Linked DNA regions of Homo sapiens: region 2 is linked to region 1. Evidence: fine-mapped expression QTL. A gene starts in region 1. The other region holds a variant in brackets. All regions are shown on one strand. Distances are between the middles of the regions. Region 1 holds the start of PDLIM1 (PDZ and LIM domain 1). Region 2 overlaps PDLIM1 (PDZ and LIM domain 1).

Region 1 (5,375 bases):
TTCTGAGTCACTTCCACTTTTCAATTAAAGCACCTGCCAAGGGCATTATAAAGATTAGTTTCCATCACTAGACCATGAACACCTTGAGAATGGAGCTGTGCCCTCTCATTTCTGAGGCGTTTGCACAGTTTCTGGAATATGATACGTGCTCATTAAACACGTGCACACGCCATAAATAAATAATATAAATAATAAATGAGTGAATATATGAAGGTAAAAACCAATGAATTCACAGTGTGGTGTTTTCCACCCCATTCCATCATTCACTCATGCATTAAGACTTTTAAAAGCAGCTAAAGTGAAAGGCAGTAACTGCCCTTTTAACAGATTGCCAATACATCCTCCACTACTTAAAAAAGGGTTTCATGTCATATATAAATCTCAGAAGTGGAGAGGGCTGACAGGTTAATTATAGACACAAAGAACAGGGACAAATGGACTATGAGGTAAGCGAGTTGAAATGTGCAGACACAATGTCCTCCCTGGACAAGCATTTATTAATAAGCCTGCAAGGATTTACCCAGCCCGGCCAGGTACAGGTCTGCTACCAGGCTCGGGGACGATTCTGGGGAAGGCACAGTTCCTGCGCTTGAGGAATTAGGCTGGTGGCTGGAAAGGCAGTGTGTACCTTTGAGAATAATCAGAGGTCTCTGTGGGACGAGGCAAACAGGTGGAAGATAAGGCCCAAAAACTGGCCCGCCTACTCTTTTAGGGGGGTGAGATAGAGAAGACCTCCTCACTGGGCCAGGCCAACCGGGAAAGAAGCATGGGTAGGACTGTGGCTGGCAGACAAGTCAAGAGGAGGCCACCAATTCTTCTCCTGCACCTCCCACCAAACTCCTTCAGCTGCTGGACGCAGGAGCTTGAGTCAAAAGGATCCATAAGGATATTTCCCTTTCTTCTCCACCCTTCCCCCAACCCCAAGTGAAAAAGAAGGATGTTTAGAAAGTCTGGGAGACAAGCTGAAGGGCAGCTTCAGCAGGCAGATGAGCCCAAGAATGGAATGTGCCGCCTACAGGCAAGGAGTGGCCATGGGTGGGGAGAAAGGGGACTTCTTTTTCTCCCTTTCCTCATTCGAGGTACTTACTGAGTCTCTTCTTGGTGCCCAAGCACTGAACGTGACATCTCTTAGTGGGACATCAACCTGTGTTTGGCCAGATTAAATGGCCAAAGCCCAGACCTCTGAACACTGAGTCTGGGTCTCCCTGGGGGTTTCACTTTATTAGGGGGGCAATGGTTCTGGTGGCCCCTGATTCAACGTGAGTCCTTCTAAAGATCCGAAGCCCCTCTTAGATTTCAAGCACCTCAACCCCACCCCAGGTGGACACCCCATCGCAGTATCTACTCATGCCCTGAGAAAAAAGGGCTGGTGCGGGGAGGGGAAAGAGATAATCTGGGAATGCTAGGAAGAATGACGGCGGGGCCACGTTCTGCAGAGGGGAGAATGACCAAGAGGGTTTACTTGAGTTTGTTTGTTGTGTTTATTTCCCGAATCCAGCACATTCTCCAAAAGCCATTCGAGGGGCGAGCCTCGGCCGTGGGTCAAGTCCAAAGAGCGTGTTTCGGTTGTTTTTTTAGGTTAATCCCACTTGCCCCCCACCCCAGTAAACTTCCCACCCACCCCACCTCACTTTCCAGGTCTTTCCTGTTGCGTTCGGCTGCACTGCGATCTGGGAAGAAGGGAGAAGTGCCATCTCCCAGCGCGCGGGATCTGCGGGGACCCTCGTCCCCTCGCTGGTTGACAAAGAACTAACACCCGCCCCGCCGCGCTTCCGGGGCCAAAGAACGAAAACTGCCTTCTTTTTTTCTGGCGGACACGGAGCGCGCCCGCGGCGGGCCGACCAGCCCGGGAGCGCAGCCTCCGCGAAGGGGCGGCGGGGAGCGGCGGGGCCCGGGCGCGCGGAGAGCGCTCAACTAACAGCGCACCTGGACGCGCCCGGCTGCGGTTCCGACTCCGTCCCCGACCGCGCCCGCGGGGCCCCAGTCTCCGCATATCACCTCCCATAGCGCCCCGCTTCCACGCACGTCCCAGCTGCTCTTACCCGGGAAATGGCGAGAGGCTGCTCGAAGTCCTTGCCGCCCACGAGGCGGAAGCCCCACGGCCCCGGGCCCTGGAGGTCTATCTGCTGGGTGGTCATGGCGCGGCTGTGGCGGGCGACGACCCGCGGGGACAGACGGGCAGGACGCGCGGAACAGCTTGCAGGGCACCCCCGGCGGCTGTCGGAGAAAGAGCGGCGCGGCGCGGGCCCGGGGAGCCTGGGGCTGGCGGGGGCAGGGCAACCGCGAGGGCCAGGGCGGGGGCGGCTCCGCCCAGGCCGCGTAGCCGCCCGCCGCCCCGCCCGTCCTCCCGCCCGCAGCCGCTCCCCGCCCTGCGCGCCGGCCTGGGGGCCCTGGCCCGGAGTCCCGCCGAGAGAGCGCGAGTCAGATGCGGGGCCGGGGCTCTCAGCAGCTCTGCCCGGGACCCCACACCGCCTCCCTCCCTCCTGTACGCACGGCCGCACCGCGGCTCTCGGGCCCGGGGCGGGTGCTAGGTGAGAGGGAAGCAGGTCCTGACAGCGAGACAAACTCGCGCCTCGTGCTTTGTAAAACGAGAAATTTGAAGTGCTGTGCCAAGTCAGCCCTCTGAGGTCGGCTCCGACTTCCCATTTGCTTTTTGTAATCGGTAATGATGTTTAAAAGGTGCTTTCGAACGATCTCATTTGATGCTGAGGCAACCGGGACGTTTAGTCCCATTTTACAGATGAAGTAACTGAGTCTGCTCAGTAGGTGAGAAGACTTGCCCGACGCTACACCACTCGTCAGCATCTGGACCACTGCCCGGGCCCAGTGCTGCAGAACCCCATCCTGGAACTTTTATAATGCTAATGAGACCATCACTCAGGTTATAACTGAACTTCAAGGCCTTCCTAGAAATCTTTCCTCCAGGCTGGAGTTCATGGTAGGTTCTGACCTCAACAGTTCAAACCTCAAGTTTGGGGCGGGCCAAGGGCCAAGTCAATGCAAAAGAAGAGCTGAGTCCGGGACCTGGATTCCCAGCCTCCCACCAGCTTCCTAGCCAGGCTCCCCCTGACGCCCTCCCGGTGGAGTGCATTCTCCACGCCGGACCAGACCATTTCTCATGCTGTCCATGGCGTCCCCACCTCACCACCAGTGAAAACCCAGATCCTTACAATGCCTACAAGGCCACCCCTAGAATGGCCCCAACTCCCTCTCTGACCCCAACTCCTCCTGCCCTTTCCTCACCTGCCCCCCAGTCTGCCAGGCTGTGCTCCTTGCTCCTAACTCAGGGCCTTGCCTCAGGGCCCTGTCTGCAATGCTGTTCTCCCAGACATCCCCACCACTCTCTGTCATTTTCTAGGGGCCGGACACGTGGCTCACGCCTGGAATCCCGGCACTTTGGGAGGCTGAGTCAGGAGGATCAGTTGAGCCCAGGAATTCTAGACCAGCCCCAGCAACACGGCAAGACCCTGTCTCTACAAAAAAATTTAAAAAAATAAAAATTAACCAGGTTTGGTGGGGCACACCTGTCCCAGCTTCTAGGGAGACTGAGGTGGGAGGATGGCTTGAGCCGGAGAGGTCAAGGCTGCAGTGAGCTGTGGTCGTGCAACTGTACTCCAGCCTGGGTGACAGAGTGAGACCCTATCTCAAAAACTAAAAAATAAAAAAAATGCAAATGTCATTTTCTGAGGTCATCTCTGAGCATCATTTAAGATATCCTCTCTAGAATGCTCTATTACCTTCCCCTGCCTTATTTTTTTCTTTTGTATGTATCACCATCTGGCATTCTCTATATTTTGTATATTTATTTGTTCCACCCCCACTCTTAAGCATTAATTCCATAAGGACAGGGGTTTTTATCTGTTTAGATCACTGCTGTGCCCCAGTGCCTAGAATAGTGCCTGGCACATAGTACTTAATGTATATAACACATTGGCCATCCTCAGGACCACTTACCCTCTCTGGGCCCAGTTTCTTCGCAGTTTTCTTGGCACCCATTCATCCTGGTACCCAGGCCCCAGCACAGTGCTTGGCATAGAGCCCATGCTCAATGAGTTTGTTCCCTGTGCAGCTCTGTCTCCCTGTGATCCTGGCCTACCTACTGAAGAGCCCTGTGCACAGATTTACACATAAAAAGATTATCTTGCTTGTCCAATTGTGTGACAGCACAAATGCCTATGTTTGGGAATAGTTTGTTTGCTTTTAGAAATCCAAGTGGAGGGCCGGGCACGGTGGCTCACACCTGTAATCCCAACACTTTGGGAGGCCAAGGTGGGCGGATCACCTGAGGTCTGGAGTTCGAGACCAGCCTGACCAACATAGAGAAACCCATCTCTACTGAAAATACCAAAAATTAGCCGGGCGTGGTGGCGCATGCCTGTAATCCCAGCTGCTCGGGAGTCTGAGGCAGGAGAATCACTTGAACCCGGGAGGTGGAGGTTGTGGTGAGCCGAGATCACGCCATTGCACCCCAGCCTGGGCAACAAGCGCGAAACTCGGTCTAAAAAAAAAAAAAAAAAAGGAAATGAAAGTGGAGTTGTATGATTATACATCCCTCTCAACCTCTTGCAACCTGATATTCTTTCCTGAACCTGAGAAAAAGAATGGTGTTATAGCCAGTAACCAGCCACCTGCTTTATGAACACCAAAAATACATTCTCTTTGTTTAAGATTCTGTTGATTAGAAAGCATGACTGTGTTTCAAGTCCCTGCAGAATTTGCAGGAATCACCGAATTCTGAATCTGTCCCTAGATGTGTAACCATCTTGAATATTTTCTGTCCTAGAAGGAGAAAAGGGTTGAAAAGTCACAGCTTCTGTGCTTCTGAAGGCAGAGACTGCCTTTCATTCATTCCAAGTGCCCTGCTAGCATGGACCTCAATCACAGTAGGTGTCAATAAGTGTTTATTCCGTACAATAGTCTATACAGACATAGTGCACTAATGTGTTAGCAAAATGTCTGTGAGACTTGAGTCCTCAGTTGCTTTGTTTTTAAATGTCCTCGGTTGTAGTCTGGCTCTACATAACAAGAGCTATAAAACAGTCAGCCCTTTGACCCAGTCATCCACTTTCTGGGCAACAATTCCAAGGACATAATTTTTAAAAAGAAAAATGCTGTATGTATACAGATATTTATAGCTGCATTATTTATAATGACAAAAAACTGGAATCAACCAGTAACAGAAAAGTGGCTAAATATGGTATGGCCGTAAGAGGGAAGAGTATGCAGCATGAAAATAACCAGGAAGACTGTGAAGAGACAGGGAAATGTGTTTTCAAAATATGTAAAAAGAGTGCAACAAAATTATTCGTATACCGTGTTAAAAAATAAAAGCTTATCTACCTATTGAAATTAAGAGAAAGTAGGAAAAGTAGTGG
Region 2 (5,375 bases), 23 kb before region 1:
TCTCATCCCTAAAAAAACAAAACAGGCCAGGCACGGTGGCTCATTCCTGTAATCGCAGCACTTTGGAAAGCCAACGCAAGAGGATCACCTGAGTTCAGGAATTCAAGACCAGCCTGGCCAACATGGTGAAACCTCGTTTCTACTAAAATATAAAAATTAGCTAGGCGTGGTGGCACCTGCCTGTAATCCCAGCTACTCAGAGGCTGAGGCAAGAAAATCACTTGAACTCAGGAGGCAGAGGTTGCAGTGAGCCAAGACTGCACCATTGCACTCCAGCCTGGGTGACAGAGCAAGACTCCATCTCACAAATAAAAAATAAAAATAAATAACAAAAAATAAAAAACAACACAAAACTTCAGCAGTTATCAAAGAGTAGTTAAGTAAATTTTATGGCACAGCTACCCAAATAAATAATATATAGTAATTAAAGGCTATGGTCATGAAGACAGAGATTTACAGATGGGTGGCCTGGTACCCTTGCCTACATGTGCCGCAGCCAGGATGGTCATTCTTTCTTCTTCTCTCCATCACCATGGCAATTCCTAGGAGCAGCAGAGGATGCAGAGCCCCAAGGAAGGGTCTTTATTTTTCCGCCTTGGCTCAATTTTTCCCTGCAATTTCCTGTTTGGCAAGGAATACCCCTCTAAGCCCATTTTTCATCTTTAAAATGAAGAAGATAAAGCCTTCTTTACAAGGATTTGTGTGAGTTACTAGAGTGTCAAGTACAGTGCCTGGCTCGTGGCACATATTCAACCAGGGTCTGTTCCCTTCTCCCTCCACCGAAACACATTTCCAATTAGAATGGAAGTCAATGGAAAATTCAGGTTGAAAATTCGGATGATTTCACTTTCTAAAGAATCTTTCAAGAATGCATCTGGTTTGTACATAAAAGGAATATCTCTACCCTCATCTGAATACTGACTGGTCTTTCCAGAAAGCAGGCAGATTCAGGGCTTGCCTTTTAGAAGGGATGATGTAATTGTTTGGGCTTTGTATTTATCAGTCTCCAAGGAAACTCAATAATGAGGAAGTACAAACTAGGTGTGTAACTATGCTGACCTCAGATAAGCTGGGGTGTTGGTTGGCATTACATGAACCAACAGATCTTTTTATTATAGATGAACTCTGCTCTTACTCATTTATCCTCTACTTTAGAATGGCTGGAAGTAAAAGACTGGAAAAATGATGGGTGAGAAGTTTTTCTTACAGTAATAAAGCATTACTAGAATCACAAGAAAAATACAAGGGTTTAAAGTATTTGAGAATTTTTGTAATCTGAAGAGAACTACCTTCAAAAGATTAATACAGGTAACTACAGATTTAAAATGAAAATTCAAATATACTACAAATGAAAACTATAACTGAAATTTACATAATTACCTTATTTACATGAAAATGAGGATTTCAGATAGACCAAGTTAAAACGAAATCATTCCTTGTGTGTTATAAAATATGTAAAAATTAAAATTTAACAATTAAAATTTAACATTTATGGTAAATTTAATGAAGTAGCTGAGAACTCCCAAGGAAACTGAAACTAACTGTGGCATGTTTTAAATTAGTTTGCACAACTGCCAGTGTATAGACCAAGTGCCATTTTACGAACTTTCCTGAGAGGAGTTGTATAGAAGAATATGTTCACATCAGTTTTGAAATGATGCAAAATGATCCTTAAAATGACTCTTGGGATTTTTAATAATTATTTTTACTATCTTAATGGCAAAAATTTTATGTGACTTCGTTTTTGAAATTTTAATGGATTCTATTTGAGAAAATATGACTTATATCCAACCACCCAATTAACACACACTAATATACCAAGTGAGTTCAACTTCATACAAGTTTCTGTTTTATGTATAAAAGATAGCTAGCTATATATTGTATTTTAATTACATCTTAATTCACCATAAAAACTAAATAGTATCCCAAATTTAGAAAAATAAGTTAAATTTCAAATCTTCAACTTGGGTCAAATGCATAACCATCACAAACCAGTGTAAAATTTTCAAAAGGCATTATCAACATACCTAGTTTATCATTACTAATTCATTAATGTATCCAACAGACACATACTTTGAGACAAGTAGCATGTTGGGTGTGAGGAATTTTACAAAAGATGTTCTAAACATCTCTAAGTTTGTCCCTTATTTCAAAAACAATACCCATGCCTTGTAGATTATTTAGAAGAGGCACATAAGGCAGAAAGAAATAAAATCACCTACAATCCAATAATCCAACTACTGAGAGATTTATTCACAAATATGGGATCTTAGGGCAGTCTACTGTCCTGAGAAATTCTATCTGGGTGACAAATTGTACACTATGTACTGCTTTTTTTTATATTAATTGCTGCTTTATTTTAGTAATTTTAAAGTCTCACTAGAAGTTTCACTGTAACAAAAATAGAGATTTCCACTCCATGGCTCATGGAAACCAGACAGGGGCATACAGTGGGGAGAAGCAGGGCTTCCTATTACATATTCCCCGATTTCTTCTAGGCTCTAGGCCTCCAGACCTAAACTTATTTTCATCCCTGTCATGATTCATTTGTTGCTGAAATCCATAACGAGCTGAATAGCTCCTTGACTTCACTGTGATCCTGCCAACCCTTCCCACGCAGGAAGGCTTCCACCGGCTTCCCTTATCGCCTTCCGACCCCCTGCTTCCAGCCCAGGACACAGCGTCACTGCCCTGGGGTTTTCCAGCCCTATCCTCCTGCAGTTCCCTTACGGGAAGAACTGAACAAGAGCCAGATACCAGCAG[A/T]GACAGTGAAGGGTCTTATCCCCAGGCCTCCAGGGCAGGAAAAACAGGAATGTGCTGAGCAGTGTCAGAAACGGCAAAGTGCTGGGTGGTGAGAGCAGCGGCAACGATGAGCAAGAACTTACCTGGGGTTCAGAGGCTAAATTCATCTTGTATGGATGACGCTTCCCTTCCTCCGTCACCAGAGGAGACCAGACTTTATGTTCAGATCTGCAACAGATTAACAAAGCTGCTGTTTCACTCATGTAAAATAAATAATATATACCAAAGACAAACTGGAAAAATGCCCCCTCTTTCCTGGACTAGGCACTGAACTAGCACCCTCCCATCAGCTCTACCTTCCATTTGCCACCAGGTTGATCTTTTAAACACCCCAATCTGATAACATCCATGGCTGATGGCTCCCCAGCATAGCCCCAAGGGGCTTCCCAAGCACTTCATCCTCCCTCACCACACTCTGGGTAGCTGACACCAGCAGTGTGGTCTCCTCCATGTTCCTAAGCATGACTCACACTGCCCTATCTCTGCTCAGGATAGAATGGGCTTCTCCTCTATCTCAACCCAGTGTGTTTGGTCCAGACCAAATAACCAACTTATTTGTGAAGCCTGTTTGACCCAAATGAAAATAATGCCTCTTGGCCGGGCGTGGTGGCTCACGCCTGTAATCCCAGCACTTTGGGAGGCTGAGGTGGGGAAATCACTTGAGGTCTGGAGTTTGACATCAGCCTGGCCAACATGGTGAAACCCCATCTCCACTAAAAATACAAAAATTAGCCGGGTGTGGTGGCATACGCCTATAATCCCAGCTACTCGGGAGGCTGAGGCAGGAGACTTGCTTAAACCCAGGAGGCAGAGGTTGCAGTGAGCTGAGATAGCACCACTGCACTTCAGCCTGGGTGACAGAGTGAGACTCCATCCCAAAAAAAAAAAAAAAAGAGAAGAACGCCCCTCTTTTGCTCTTATAAACTATTTTCTTTGTACCAACCACAGAGCAATGATTTTACTTTAGTCTCAGTTTTCATTAGTGTCGTTGTTTCCTCTCTTGCAGGTAGAAAATATTTATACTTATCTTTATTTATTTTATTTATTTATTTTTTGAGACAGAGTCTCGCTCTGTCGCCCAGGCTGGAGTGCAATGAATGGCGTGATCTTGGCTCACTGCAACCTCCGCTTCCCAGGCTCAAGCGATTCTCCCAGCCCAGTCTCCCGAGTAGCTGAGATTACAGGCACCTGCCATCATCCCTAGCTAATTTTTTTGTGTTTTTGTAGAAACAGGGTTTCATCATGTTGGCCAGGCTGGTCTTGAACTCCTAACCTCAGGTGATCTACCCACCTCGGCCTCCCAAAGTGCTGGGATTACAGACTAGAGCCACCATACCTGGCCATACTTAACTTTATATTTGTCACAATGTCTATGCCAGATATACAAGATGTCCCTTTTCAACATGCCGGTAAACAAATAAAAAATCAATTAATCAATGAATGAATGAATGTCCTGAACTCGGGCTTGAAGGAGAGGATTTGGACAAAGATAGAAATGGAGATGAGAATGAAGGGCAGATGTGCTTTTGAGGGGGTAGTAATAACACAGTGTACCTCTCATGGGGTAGGTCTCTGAAGTGTACAAAATATTTTTATATACTCCCCCACACTCGATCCACCTGCCAGTCCTGTGCCACAAAGCAAAAAAAAAAAAGCAAAAAACATACTTCACAGATGAGAATCTAACCAAAGGCTCCATGACAAAGAGCTGTGGCAGCTAAGGTTAGTGAGATAACAGGTGATCAGAATGAAACATCTGAATTTGATGCAGTAGGAAACAGGGAGCCAACTGAGGGTTGAACCAAATCACTTCCGAAATCCTGCCTTTGCGGGACCCCTTCCAAGGCTAAATGAAAGAAGAATGGAAATTCTACCCTAATTACAGCTCCCAAGGTGCTACCCTCATTCATTCTTTTATCCCCAGCGCTCCTTGCTTGTCATGTACCTAAAGTTACACTCAGTACTCTGCTGCTAATGTGTTCAAGTTTTTCTCTGTTATTGCAATCTCCTGGCATGGTACCCACTGCTCAGCACAATGCAGTAGCAGCAGCATCCTAAGGACATTTTTTTTTTTGAGATGGAGTTTCGCTCTGTCGCCCAGGCTGGAGTGCAGTGACGCCATCTCAGCTCACTGCAAACTCTGCCTCCTGGGTTCAAGTGATTCTCCTGCCTCGGCCTCCCGAGTAGCTGGAACTACAGGTGCACGCTACCACACCTGGCTAATTTTTTAATTTTTAGTGGAGATAGGGTTTCACCATGTTGGCCAGGCTGGTCTCAAACTCCAGACCTCAAGTGATTTGTCTGCCTCGGCCTCCCAAAGTGCTGGGATTACAAAGAGAGCCACCGCACCTGGCCAGGACATTTTACTTACTCAAAATTTTGGTTGAGTTGGATCAAGTGAAAATGCAAGTATCTTACTGAAAGAAGCCCACATCATAAGCACCGTGAAAATCAGAGGGGGGCTGGGCACGGTGGCTCACACCTGTAATCCTAGCACTTTGGGAGGCCAAGGCAGGTGGATCACCTGAGGTCAGGAGTTCGAGGCCAGCCTGGCCAACATGGTGAAACCCCAT

Evidence for each region.
Region 2: its variant is fine-mapped to the expression of PDLIM1 in whole blood (INTERVAL, PIP 0.96).

Annotation. Positions count from the first base shown.
Region 1 is chr10:95,288,778-95,294,152 of GRCh38, forward strand. It overlaps PDLIM1 (PDZ and LIM domain 1), which reads right to left and starts at 2,226. Exons shown (of 7, transcript NM_020992.4): 1 at 2,043-2,226. The coding sequence starts at 2,138. RefSeq lists enhancers at 743-1,062, 4,787-4,876 and silencers at 1,784-1,893, 1,914-2,013, 2,064-2,453, 2,504-2,583, 4,227-4,296.
Region 2 is chr10:95,265,893-95,271,267 of GRCh38, forward strand. It overlaps PDLIM1 (PDZ and LIM domain 1), which reads right to left. Exons shown (of 7, transcript NM_020992.4): 3 at 2,886-2,970. Among named protein-coding and RNA genes, the nearest start is that of PDLIM1, 22 kb to the right of the region's middle. The variant A/T (reference allele first, on the strand shown) is at 2,764.